2 linked regions of the Homo sapiens genome follow. The protein of the gene in region 1 interacts with the protein of each later gene in a pairwise test. Each region holds a gene or a part of one and is shown on either strand. Other genes may lie near its edges.

Region 1 (3,759 bases):
CATGTTGGCAAGTGTGACCCACAGTGACTCTGAGATCCCAGCTTCTCTTAACCAGGGCCTCTCACTCCTGCTCCATGAGGTAAGGATGAGCACTGCTTTCCTTCTTGGCTACGAAACCATTAATGCTCTCCTGCCTTCATTAAAGTGATTTTTCCCCATTCCTCTCATCAGTTTTTTTGAGGGGGCTCCAACTTAACTACCTAACTACTTGCCATCTAAGCTGTACTGAGTCACATTCCTAAGTTCCTGGTCCCCCAAATCTCCTCCCCATCTAGAACAGAGAGGTCCCTTCTGAGAGAGTGGAACACTGTACACTCATCTGAAAACTCACAAGCACAGCTCCTTATTCCCACCTTTGCCCCAAATTAGCCTCTATTTCTCCCTCTTTTACAAATCATCTACTCTTCAGGGTTCTTATTCCTACCCTCCACAGCTCCATGAACTTCTTTCTTCTTTTCCATCCTTTCTGTTCAGGCCTGTCCTGTCCTAGTCACTCATCCTTCATGCTCTATTTTCCTTCAGCTCTTATGCCAGAACCCCCTCCATCGTCTACGTTATCTGCATCACTTCCAGGTCCACCCTTTCTTTCGGGGTGTGGCCTTCGACCCAGAGCTCCTACAGAAGCAGCCAGTGAACTTTGTCACGGAGACACAAGCTACCCAGCCCAGTTCAGCGGAGACCATGCCCTTTGACGACTTTGACTGTGATCTGGAGTCCTTCTTGCTCTACCCTATCCCTGCTTGAGCCTCTCTACTGTAAATTGGGGCCCGGCTGGGAGCCTGAAGATCTCCATCCCTGCCTACTCAGTATGACCACCTTGATAATCCAGTTTGTTTTTATTTTGTAGCCTCTTACCGTTCTGCTCTCCTAGGCTTTAGACCAGAGTTCCAACCTGGACATTCTGCTACTGGCAGCCACAGCTGGCCCTATTCCTTCCCTATCATACAACCTACCTCTCAATTCAACATGTCAGATCAGGGTGGTGACCTTTTCCTTTTCTTTACTTCTCCAGTGCTCTTTACCCTCAGGCTGTCAGCCAGAGCTGCTTCTGCTTGTTTCTCTGCCATGTTTCCTTTCTTGAGCAATAATAATACTTCATGGGCTCCCAGGGTGCTATTGATGTGTTTAATAGGCTTGTCAGAAGCAATATGAATTTTTTTTTTTTTTTTGAGACAGAGTCTCACTCTGTTGCCCAGGCTGGAGTGCAGTGGTGCGTTCTCAGCTCACTGCAACCTCCGTCTCCTGGGTTGAAGTGATTTTCATGCCTCAGCCTCCCGAGTAGCTGGGATTACAAATGCACACCATTATGCCCAGCTAATTTTTGTATTTTTTAGTAGAGACAGGGTTCACCATGTTGGCCAGGCTGATCTCAAACTCCTGACCTCAAGTGATCGGCCTGCCTTGGCCTCCCAAAGTGCTGGAATTACAGGTAGGTGTGAGCCACTGCACCAGACCCTTTTTTTTTTTTTTTTTTTTTTTTTTTGAGATAGGGTCTCACTCTCGTCACCCAGGTTGGAGTGCAGTGGCACGATCTCAGCTCACTGCAACCTTCACAGGCATGAGCCTCCACACCCAGCCTGTGAATTTTTCAAAAGTCTCAAAAGCTGGCATTTCAACCCCTAAATAATGCAGCTAAAAAATATAGTCTGGGAGCTTGAGGCCAGTCTGCAATAAATCTAATTTTTAAAAATTGAAAAGTGAATAAAATAATCTAGTGAGGAAGAAAATAGAAACTGAAACATGGGTGGGTTAAATGTCTTCTCTAGGTCTATAATTGCAACAGTTATCCAAAATAAAACCTCTTTGAAAAGCATAGGATTTTTAAACTGACAATTTCTCCTAGTGAGCCCATGATTCAGTTTCTGATGGGCAAACCAAGAGATTAAGAGGCATGCATCAACCTTAAGATTTAAGGTTATTTGGGAGGCCAAGGTGGGCAGATCAGTTGAGGTCAAGAGTTCGAGACCAGCGTGGCCAACATGGTGAAACCTTGTGTCTACTAAAAAAATACAAAAATTAGCTGGGTGTGGTGTTGCACACCTGTAGTCCCAGCTACTCAGAAGGCTGAAGCAGGAGAACTGCTTGAACCCTGGAGGCCAAGGTTGCAGTGAGCCAAGATTGTGCCATTGAACTCCTGGGTGACAGAGGTAGACTCTGTCTCAAAAAAAAAAAAAAAAAAAAAAAAAAAAGATTTAAGGTTAGAGACATATCTCAATAACCTTTTCCTTTAGTAAGGAAAATCATCTGGACCTTAAATTTGTATACAGTTTTGGCCTTTATGACTTCTTTTCATTTTTCTTAAACTAATTTCTCACAATTTTCATTTTTGTCCTGAGACTTGAAGGGAAAGTAAGTTTTAATCTAGACCATATTATTTAGTTACATCTAATCTCTCTAGACAAAAGACAGTCTGGAGAGTACTCTTTAGTTCTATTTATTAATTTTGTCTCTAGATTGAGCCAGATTTCCCCATGCATAGCTGGCATTTTATTGGCCTCTGCAGAATTGCTTTTTCTGGATTGGACTTTGGTAATCCATATGAAAATCTCTATGAAATTTAATTGCTCGCCAGGTGTGGTGGCTCACACTTGTAATCCCAGCACTTTGGGAGGCTGAGGTGGGCGGATCACCAGAGGTCAGGAGTTCGAGACCAGCCTGGCCAACATGGTGAAACCCCGTTTCTCCCCAAAAAATACAAAAATTAGCTGGTCATGAGGGCACACACTGTAGTCCCAGCTACTCAGGAGGCTGAGGGGGAAGAATTGCTTGAACCCAGGAGATGGAGGTTGCAATGAGTGAAGATCGTGCCACTGCATCCAGCCTGAGCAACAGAGTGAGATCTTGTCTCAGGAAAAAAATAAATTTAATTGCTGTGGATACTGTAAAGGGTGTTTATCGTAACAGTTCATAATATTCTATTTAAGAATGCGTGGGAGAAATTTTCTCTGGACCCAGTTATGCTTTTCCTGAATTGCTGTTTGGTTTTTACCTTAAGGACACTAAATATTCAGCTGATTGTATTTTTCTGTTTGTACTGATACTAGACCATTTAGAGCCCAATTTGTGGTCTACCTTCAGCAAGTGTTTATGTATTTTGTATGCTAGTCATGTTCTTGGTTCTGTCTTCCTTTTCTACTTTTATTTTCCTTATTCTCATTTTTCTAAGTTTTAATCGTTTTATATTACTATAATATCTGCATCTTGTAAGCCTTTTTGTAATAAGGTTGGGATATAAATAAATAAGGCAATGTATCCTTTATCCTTTTATCTCATTTGTTTCTCTTTAGACACTTTTATTACTTTTTAAAAATTGTGATGACCAGAACTGCACACTGGATAAAAACTCTGAATACTAAAAATAGGAATTAATGGTTTCCAAAATAGTAGTTAAGAGCATTTGTTTGGAATTTAGGAGATCTGATGCCTGGATCCACCAATAACTATCTCATCGTCTTTTTTTTTTTTTTTTTTTTGGTGGGGATGGAGTCTTGCTCTGTTGCCCAGGTTGGAGTGCAGTGGCGCAATCTCGGCTCACTGTAGCCTCTGCCTCCCAGGTTCTAGCAATTCTCCTGCCTCAGCCTCGTGGGTAGCTGGGATTACAGGTGCATGCTACCACGCCCGGCTAATTTTTGTATTTTGAGTAGAGACGGGGTTTCGCCATGTTGGCCAGGCTGGTGTGGAACTCCTGACCTCAGATGATCCACCCGCCTTGGCCTCCCAAAGTGCTGAGATTACAGGCGTGAGCCACCACGCCCAGGC
Region 2 (7,036 bases), on another chromosome or scaffold:
AGCAATAACACTGTAACCCTCCATCCCCCACCCCCTTCGGCTGCCCCACTCAACGGGAAGCAGTGGTCTGTTAATGCGCCCGTTTAGAGCCGTTAAGATGCCCGTTAGTCCGGCAGCAGATGCGGGTCGAAAAGAGCTGTGTGCACGCTGTAACATCCCCTCTCGGGCTTCGGGGTCGCGGTTGTTGCTCTTCGGGCGCCACGGTGTTCCCCTCGCCTGGACGCAGGAGTCCACTGTGGGAGTCACTTGCCACACGCCTGGTCCAGCTACAAGCCCCGTGTGAAGCCTGCTCCTATGCTGGCGGTTGGAGCAGCCCCCGGACCCCTACACTCAGTTGCTCGCACAACCCACCTGCTGGGGGCTGAGAGCACAGTCACCGAGGCCACGGGATATGCCAAAGCGCAAGCCAGGTGCGGCCCGGCAGGCCTAGTGGGCGAACCTGGGCCGAGAGAGGCCTGGGCAGGGGCATCGCCGACCACGGAGGTCTCCAGCTGGCAAAGCGGCACCGAAAAAAACCCTGCATCAATTGTCTTTCATTAGTAGTGAGATCGAACATTTGTATGTTACCATTTAGCTTAACATTTATATATTTCTGTGATTTGTTACTTTTTGGGTCACGCGTATTTTTCTTATTCAACCTATAAAAATTCTACATCGGGCACATTATATGTTACAGGAATATATTTTTCCATATTTTAAAGAAAGAAATGGATTTATTATTAACTGGAGTTCAAATGTCAAATGGATTACAGGACATGGAGAACTGACTGAGAGAATTACGGTAGAACTGTCTGCCTTGGTGGTATTTATTTCTACCTCTCTGAGTAGCAGTCCATTAAATATGTTCTGTTGGGGAAACCAACAGATCCCTAATTACCCAGGGACAGAGGAACACAGGCGCTCACAATGGGATGTTAGGAATTACTGAAAACAAGGCCTTCTCCTTCTCCATCCCTAAAGGGGCACTGTGCGTATCTCACAGACGCAGAGAGGAGGCACGGGCTGCGGAGGTGGGAGACCCGGGCTCACCTGGATGTTGTCGAACCTGAGGCCCGGCATGGTGAGGTTCTCCTTGTCCACGAACACGGCGCCGCGCTGCTGGGTGGCCACGGCCCGCAGGACTCCACGCGTAGCCTCGCCGGGAAGCCAGGCGTCGTTCCTCCGGTCCATCTCGCTCATGCTCAGGGCGGTGGCAAAGGGGTCGTCACTCCCTGCAAACACTGCCTGGATGTGCGCGAAAGGCTCTGGCGACGCCGGGGGCGCAGCTGCCTGGGGCCCTCGCATGGCCACGGGTTCGGGGCGCCCCTCGGTCCCGGGCACAGCGAGGGGAGGCGGGCTGGCGGGGGCCGGGGAGCCCGCGCCGGGATTGCTGACGGAAATGAAGGCGGAGGTAGTAAAGGAGTCGAAGAAGTCCGAGGCCAAGGAGTGGCTGGCGGCCGTGTCTCCGAAGAACGTGCTGAGGCTGGGGCTGGGCTGCACGACCTGGGGCGGTGTCCTGGCCGAGGCCTCGCTGGCGCCACCGAAGCTGGGCGACTTCACCATCTGCGGCTCGAAGCCGTCCCCGGAGGCTGGGGGCGCGCGCTGGCTGAAGATGGTGCACACCGGGACCGGCTCCGCAACGGGAGGCTCCTGCTCCGGGCGCGCGGCTTCGCTGCCTGGGACCTCGCGGGCCGCGTCCTGCCTCGGGGCCCCTCCGCTACTGGGTGCCGCGTCCTCGGGGGCACAGTCGCCGTCGGCCTCGCCGCTGGGACTCGGGGTGCCCGCGGGCTCCGGGCCTGGGTCGCCTTCCCCTCCGGGCTCAGCTTCGTCCCGCACTCGGCCCAGGTCGCCCGCGTCGCCCTCGCTGTTGGGGGAGTCAGAGATGAGGACGCTCTCCATCATGTGTTCGTTCAGCTTGTCCGCGAGAGGACTCGAGCCTTCCGATGCGGTCTCGTTCTCTTCGGATCCAAACTCATCTCCGCCAAGATCGATGGTTTCCTCCTGGAAGAGCAACCCCTGCTCCTCCGGAGGCGCGAGCTGAGGGGGGTGCGGGGCCTCCGGGGCCGGGGTCTCCTCGCCGCCGCCAGCGTCCTCCATGACCCTGAAAGCAAAGACAGAGAGAAGGCCCCTGAGCGTGATCTTCATTCACCTCAACCGAAAAATGAGTATTGCTTATAGATTCAAATGACGCAGACTTCCATTTCTCCAGCTTCTTATCCATGTGCTTTTGATTATGGTAAAATACACATAAAATTGACCACCTTAAGTTCAGTAGTGTTAAGTACATCTACATTTCTGTGCAACCAATCTCCAGAACACTTTTTATCTTGCAAAACTAAAATTCCATCCCCATTAAACATTCCCCCGTATACCCATCTCCCCCGCCTAGAGCATCCACCATTCTACTATAAAATAAGTGGAATCACCCGATAACTGTCTTCCTGTGACTGGCTGATTTTACTCAGTATAAAGTCCTCAAGGGCTATTTATGCTACAGCTTGGTCAGAGTTTCCTTCCTTTTTATGGATGAAAAATATTCCATGGTATGCATACACTACATTTTGTTTATCCAGCTATCTGTTGTTGAACACGTGGGTTGCTCCCATCTTTTAGCTATTGTGGATGCTGCTGCAATGAACGTGGCTGTACAAACAGCTCTTTGAGACCCTGCTTTCAATCATTTTGGGTAAATACCTAGAAGGAACTGCTGGATTATATGGTAATTCTATTTTTAATTTTTTTGAGGCACCAAAAAACTGTTTTTCATAGTGGCTGAACCGTTTGTCATTCCCACCAACAGTGCACAAGCCTTGGAATTCACATCCTTGCCAACACTTGTTATTTTGTTTTTATTTCATAGTAGCCATTCCAGTAGGTGTGAGGTTCCAGCCATATAAACACTACTTCATTCTGAGAGTCAGCTAAGTCCCTCCTCTTCCATGAAGCCCTCCCAAGACTCTTCAATTTGTAATAGTCTCTTGACTTCCCCATGCCGTCCGCCCCTACCCCCGCCCCACGCCCCAGCTCATATTATCTGCCTGACTCTGGAAATCTGATACAGTGCGAATGACATGAAAAATTTAAACAGTAAGAAAACAGCACACTCACTAAGCACTGATGGCTGAAGCTGACAACACAACTAGCTAACATTTATCCGCACATACTATGCCCCTGGCTATATATACATATGCCTGTGTGATTCTCAGAACACCCCTCGAGACAGCTGCTATCACTGTCTTCGTTTCGCAGATGAGGACACTGAGGCCTTGGGAGGCTATGTAAGCCGAAATCACACCGCTAGTGAGTGGGGAAACCAGGACCAGCCAAAGAATGAGACAAAGAGCTCAAACTGTAAAAAAGTATTTGTTCTTTTTCTTGAAAAACTTTTACTTTATGTAGTTTTACTCTCATAGTGAACAAATTCAAGTTAAGGAAATCTAAGAGACTATGATAAAAGATAAGGGATTTTTTTCAGAATAAAACAACACGTACCTTTTTTACTTAAAAAATGACACTTAGCTGATCTCTAGATAAGACTACCCTTTTCTCACTGTCAACACTTCCATCATAGTATTCCCAATGAGTCAGCCTTCCCAAAACATTATTTTAAAGTACATAATCCAAGTTATACATTTTGAAGAAGTTTCCGGTTCAGCCTGGTCAGCTACTAATTCCCTTATACATTCATCCAATAATTGTTAAGTATAAATGAATAAAAAATCCAATGAAAAGGAGTAAAACGTTTTTTTTCCTGCCATGTTTCACCGGGAGCCCGAAGAACAAATTGCCCTAGAACCCCAAAGGGGGAGCCCCCTGTGCATGGTAAGGCTGCTCCTTCGGGTCCTTCCTGTGCAGGGATAGAGGCCGGGCACAAGGAGCAAACAGGCAGCATGAGGCAGTGCCCCCTCTGAAGTCTCCCAGCAGGACTTGAAGGCACTAGCGTGGTCTGCGTATTTTATTTTAGAAATAAGAATTGATTTCGATATAAGCTAATGATGAGAGAAAGGGATCTTCCCTCCGTCTCATCTACCCTCAGCCCTAACAAAATTCTAGGTTCTAAAGCTAATTCTGATTCAATCTCACAGATTTTAAAAGTTTTATTGCCTTTGTGAAGAAACTTTTTAAAGAAACAATTCTTACTATTGTGAAGATGAAGCTGCTTTAAACCTGTAAGATTTAGGGAAATCTGTTTATCAGAGATATAATAACAAAAAACATCGCCTAGAAAAACCACCAAAATAATAAAAATTAAGGTAAAATGCTTCTAAATTATAAAGCTTAAAAACTTTATAAATTGTAAATTAAGGAGAACTGATAAAATGGGAATGTCCAAAATTTTCATTAATACCTGCAAACCACTTTTGAGAAGAGAAGAAAATAAAAAAATAAATTTTATTCTTAAGTAAATACCAAAGTAATAAAAAGCCCTAATAATTTAGGGCAAGGATGATCACTTTTGCTTTCACACAAATAAAATCTAGATGCAGGAAAATGCTTGTAAGTAAGGATCTGAGGGTTTCTTCTCTAGAAAATCAAGAGGAATGCTCAAATAAAAATGATATAAAACGTGATTTAGATGATGCTTTTATGAATGGGAAGACATACATATATTATAAAGCTACATCTATATAAATTATATACATAAGATTTTGTGAGAATGGACATATAATTTGTAGCAAAATAGCTTCTTCACTTCAAGGGTTTCCTTACTCTAATCTTATTCCAATGTAAGGTTCAAATGCAAAGCAGACACTAGTAATAACCATGTATATATGACGAGATAGTTCTATAACCATAAAAAAAGTATAACCAGTAGTTAAGTCTTCCTACAAAGAAAATATAGGGTCCAGAGGGTTTACCAGTGAATTCTACCAAAGATTCCGTACAGATAATTCCTACAGTACAAAAATTCTTGCAGAGAAGAAAAAAGACACATGACCCAATTCACTTTATAAGGCTAATATAACCTTGAGACCAAAATTTGACAAGGCCATACTAAAAGGGAAGCTATCATCTCACTCATGAACACACATGCAAAAATCTTGAAATATTAGCTAACTGAATCAGCAATGTATTTATTTTCTACCAAACTCAGGTAATCCCAGAAATGTACTGTTGGTTTAATGCGATAGATTAAATAAAAGTACATGACTATCTCAATAGATGCACAAGAAAGTATCTAATAAAATTCAGCATCTGCTCAAGATAAAACCTGTCAGCAAACTAGCAACAGAAAGTAACTTCCTTAATGCAATCAAAGGTATCTACCAAAAACCTAAAGGAAACCTCAAATTAACAGTGAAACGTTTAAAGCATTCTCTTTAAAAGTAGAAAAAAGATAAAGATGTCCTCTTCAACATTTTTATGCTGCCTAATACTGGAGTCCTCGGGCAGGATTAAGGCAAGAAAAATAACTAAAAGCTACAATAAAAACTGAAAAGAAAAAAATACAAACCTTCATTCTTCGTGTATGATTATTTATGTAGAATACATCAAAAATCTATGGTATAAAGACTGAAATATTGGGCCAGGCACGGTGGTTCAGGCCTGTAATCCTAGCAATTTGGGAGGCCGAGGAGGGTGGATCACCTGAGGTCAGAAGTTCAAGACCAGCCTGGTCAACATGGTGAAACACTGTCTCTACTAAATATACAAAAATTAGCCAGGTGTGGTGGAGGGCGCCTGTAATCCCAGCTACTTGGGATACTGAGGCAGGAAAATCACTTGAACCCAGGAGGCGGAGGTTGCAGTGAGCCGAGATCGCACCACTGTGCTCCAGCCTGGGCAACAGCAGCGAAACTTCATCTCAAAAAAAAAAAAAAAAAAAAAAAAAAAAAAAAAAAAAAAAACAAGACTGAACTATCACAAGGGAATATGTAGCACACATCAAAGGAAGAGACGATTTTCCTTGAGTGATGTGTAGACAAATCATGCAGCTGGGAAAAAATAAACTTGGAATCTTGTCTCACCACAGACACAGTATCAATCTCAGGGACGTTAAAAACTTAACTGTGAAGGCCGGGTGCGGTGGCTCACGCCTGTAATCCCAGCACTTTCGGAGGCCGGGGCGGGCGTATCACGAGGTCAGGAGTTCAAGATGAGCCTGGCCGACATGGTAAAACCCCGTCTCTACTAAAAATACAAAAATTAGCCAGGTGTGGTGGCGGGCACCTGTAATCCCAGCTACTCTGCTACTCGGGAGGCTGAGGCAGGAGAATCGCTTGAACCCAGGAGGCAGAGGTTGTAGTGAGCCAAGATTGAGGCACGACATTCCAGCCTGGGTGACAGAGAAAGACTCCGTCTCGGGCGGGGCGGGGGTGGGGGATCAAAAATTAACTGTGAAAGGCAAAACTTCAAAACTTTCAGAAGAAAATATAAGAGAATATATTTTCAGAGTAGGCAAAGCCTCTTAAACTAGGCATAATCAGTACAAACCATAAAGGGAAAATGGATACATCTGCTATATTAAAATGGAAAGTTCTATCATTAAAAACCTAAAAAAAGTGAAACAAACAAATGTAACTGAGAAAGGATTAACACGAAGAATACATAAAGAATCCCTACAAATTAATAAAAGCACACTAAATGATCCATTAGAAAAATAAGCAACAGAGCTGAAAGAGGTATACCTTTGAACATCCATGTTGAGAAACCACTTGGTATTATCTAGTAAAGTTTAAAAAGCACATTATCTTATCACTTTGATAACTATACATCTTGATTTTTCCCAGAACAATTCAATTTTTCACCCATGGTTTAAGTTATTTCTATTATTTTATTAGTATTATTATTTTATGAGACATAGTCTGGCTCTGTCACCCTGGCGGGAGTGCAATGGGACGATGATGGCTTACTGCAGCCTCGATCTTCTGGGCTCAAGCCCATCCTCCTGCCTCAGCCTCTGGAGTAGCTGGGACTACAGGTGTGCACCACCACACTCAGCTATTTTTGTATTTTTTGTAGAGATGGGGACTCAATATGTTGGCCAGGCTGGTCTCAAACTTCTGAGCTCAAGTGATCCTCCTGCCTTGGCCTCCCAAAGTGCTGAGATTACAGG

The links. The genes of interacting proteins can lie anywhere in the genome.
Region 2: the proteins of RSKR (region 1) and TRAPPC12 interact in binary tests that used the Homo sapiens proteins (3 or more experiments, as listed by UniProt).

Annotation. Positions count from the first base shown.
Region 1 is NC_000017.11:28,607,463-28,611,221, reverse strand, and holds the end of RSKR (ribosomal protein S6 kinase-related protein), read left to right. Parts: coding exon 1-79; intron 80-522; coding exon 523-744; 3' UTR 745-3,259; downstream 3,260-3,759.
Region 2 is NC_000002.12:3,382,664-3,389,699, reverse strand, and holds part of TRAPPC12 (trafficking protein particle complex subunit 12), read right to left. Parts: intron 2,081-7,036; 5' UTR 2,077-2,080; coding exon 1,030-2,076; intron 15-1,029; exon of another isoform or gene 1-14. UniProt on the Homo sapiens protein: Component of the TRAPP complex, which is involved in endoplasmic reticulum to Golgi apparatus trafficking at a very early stage.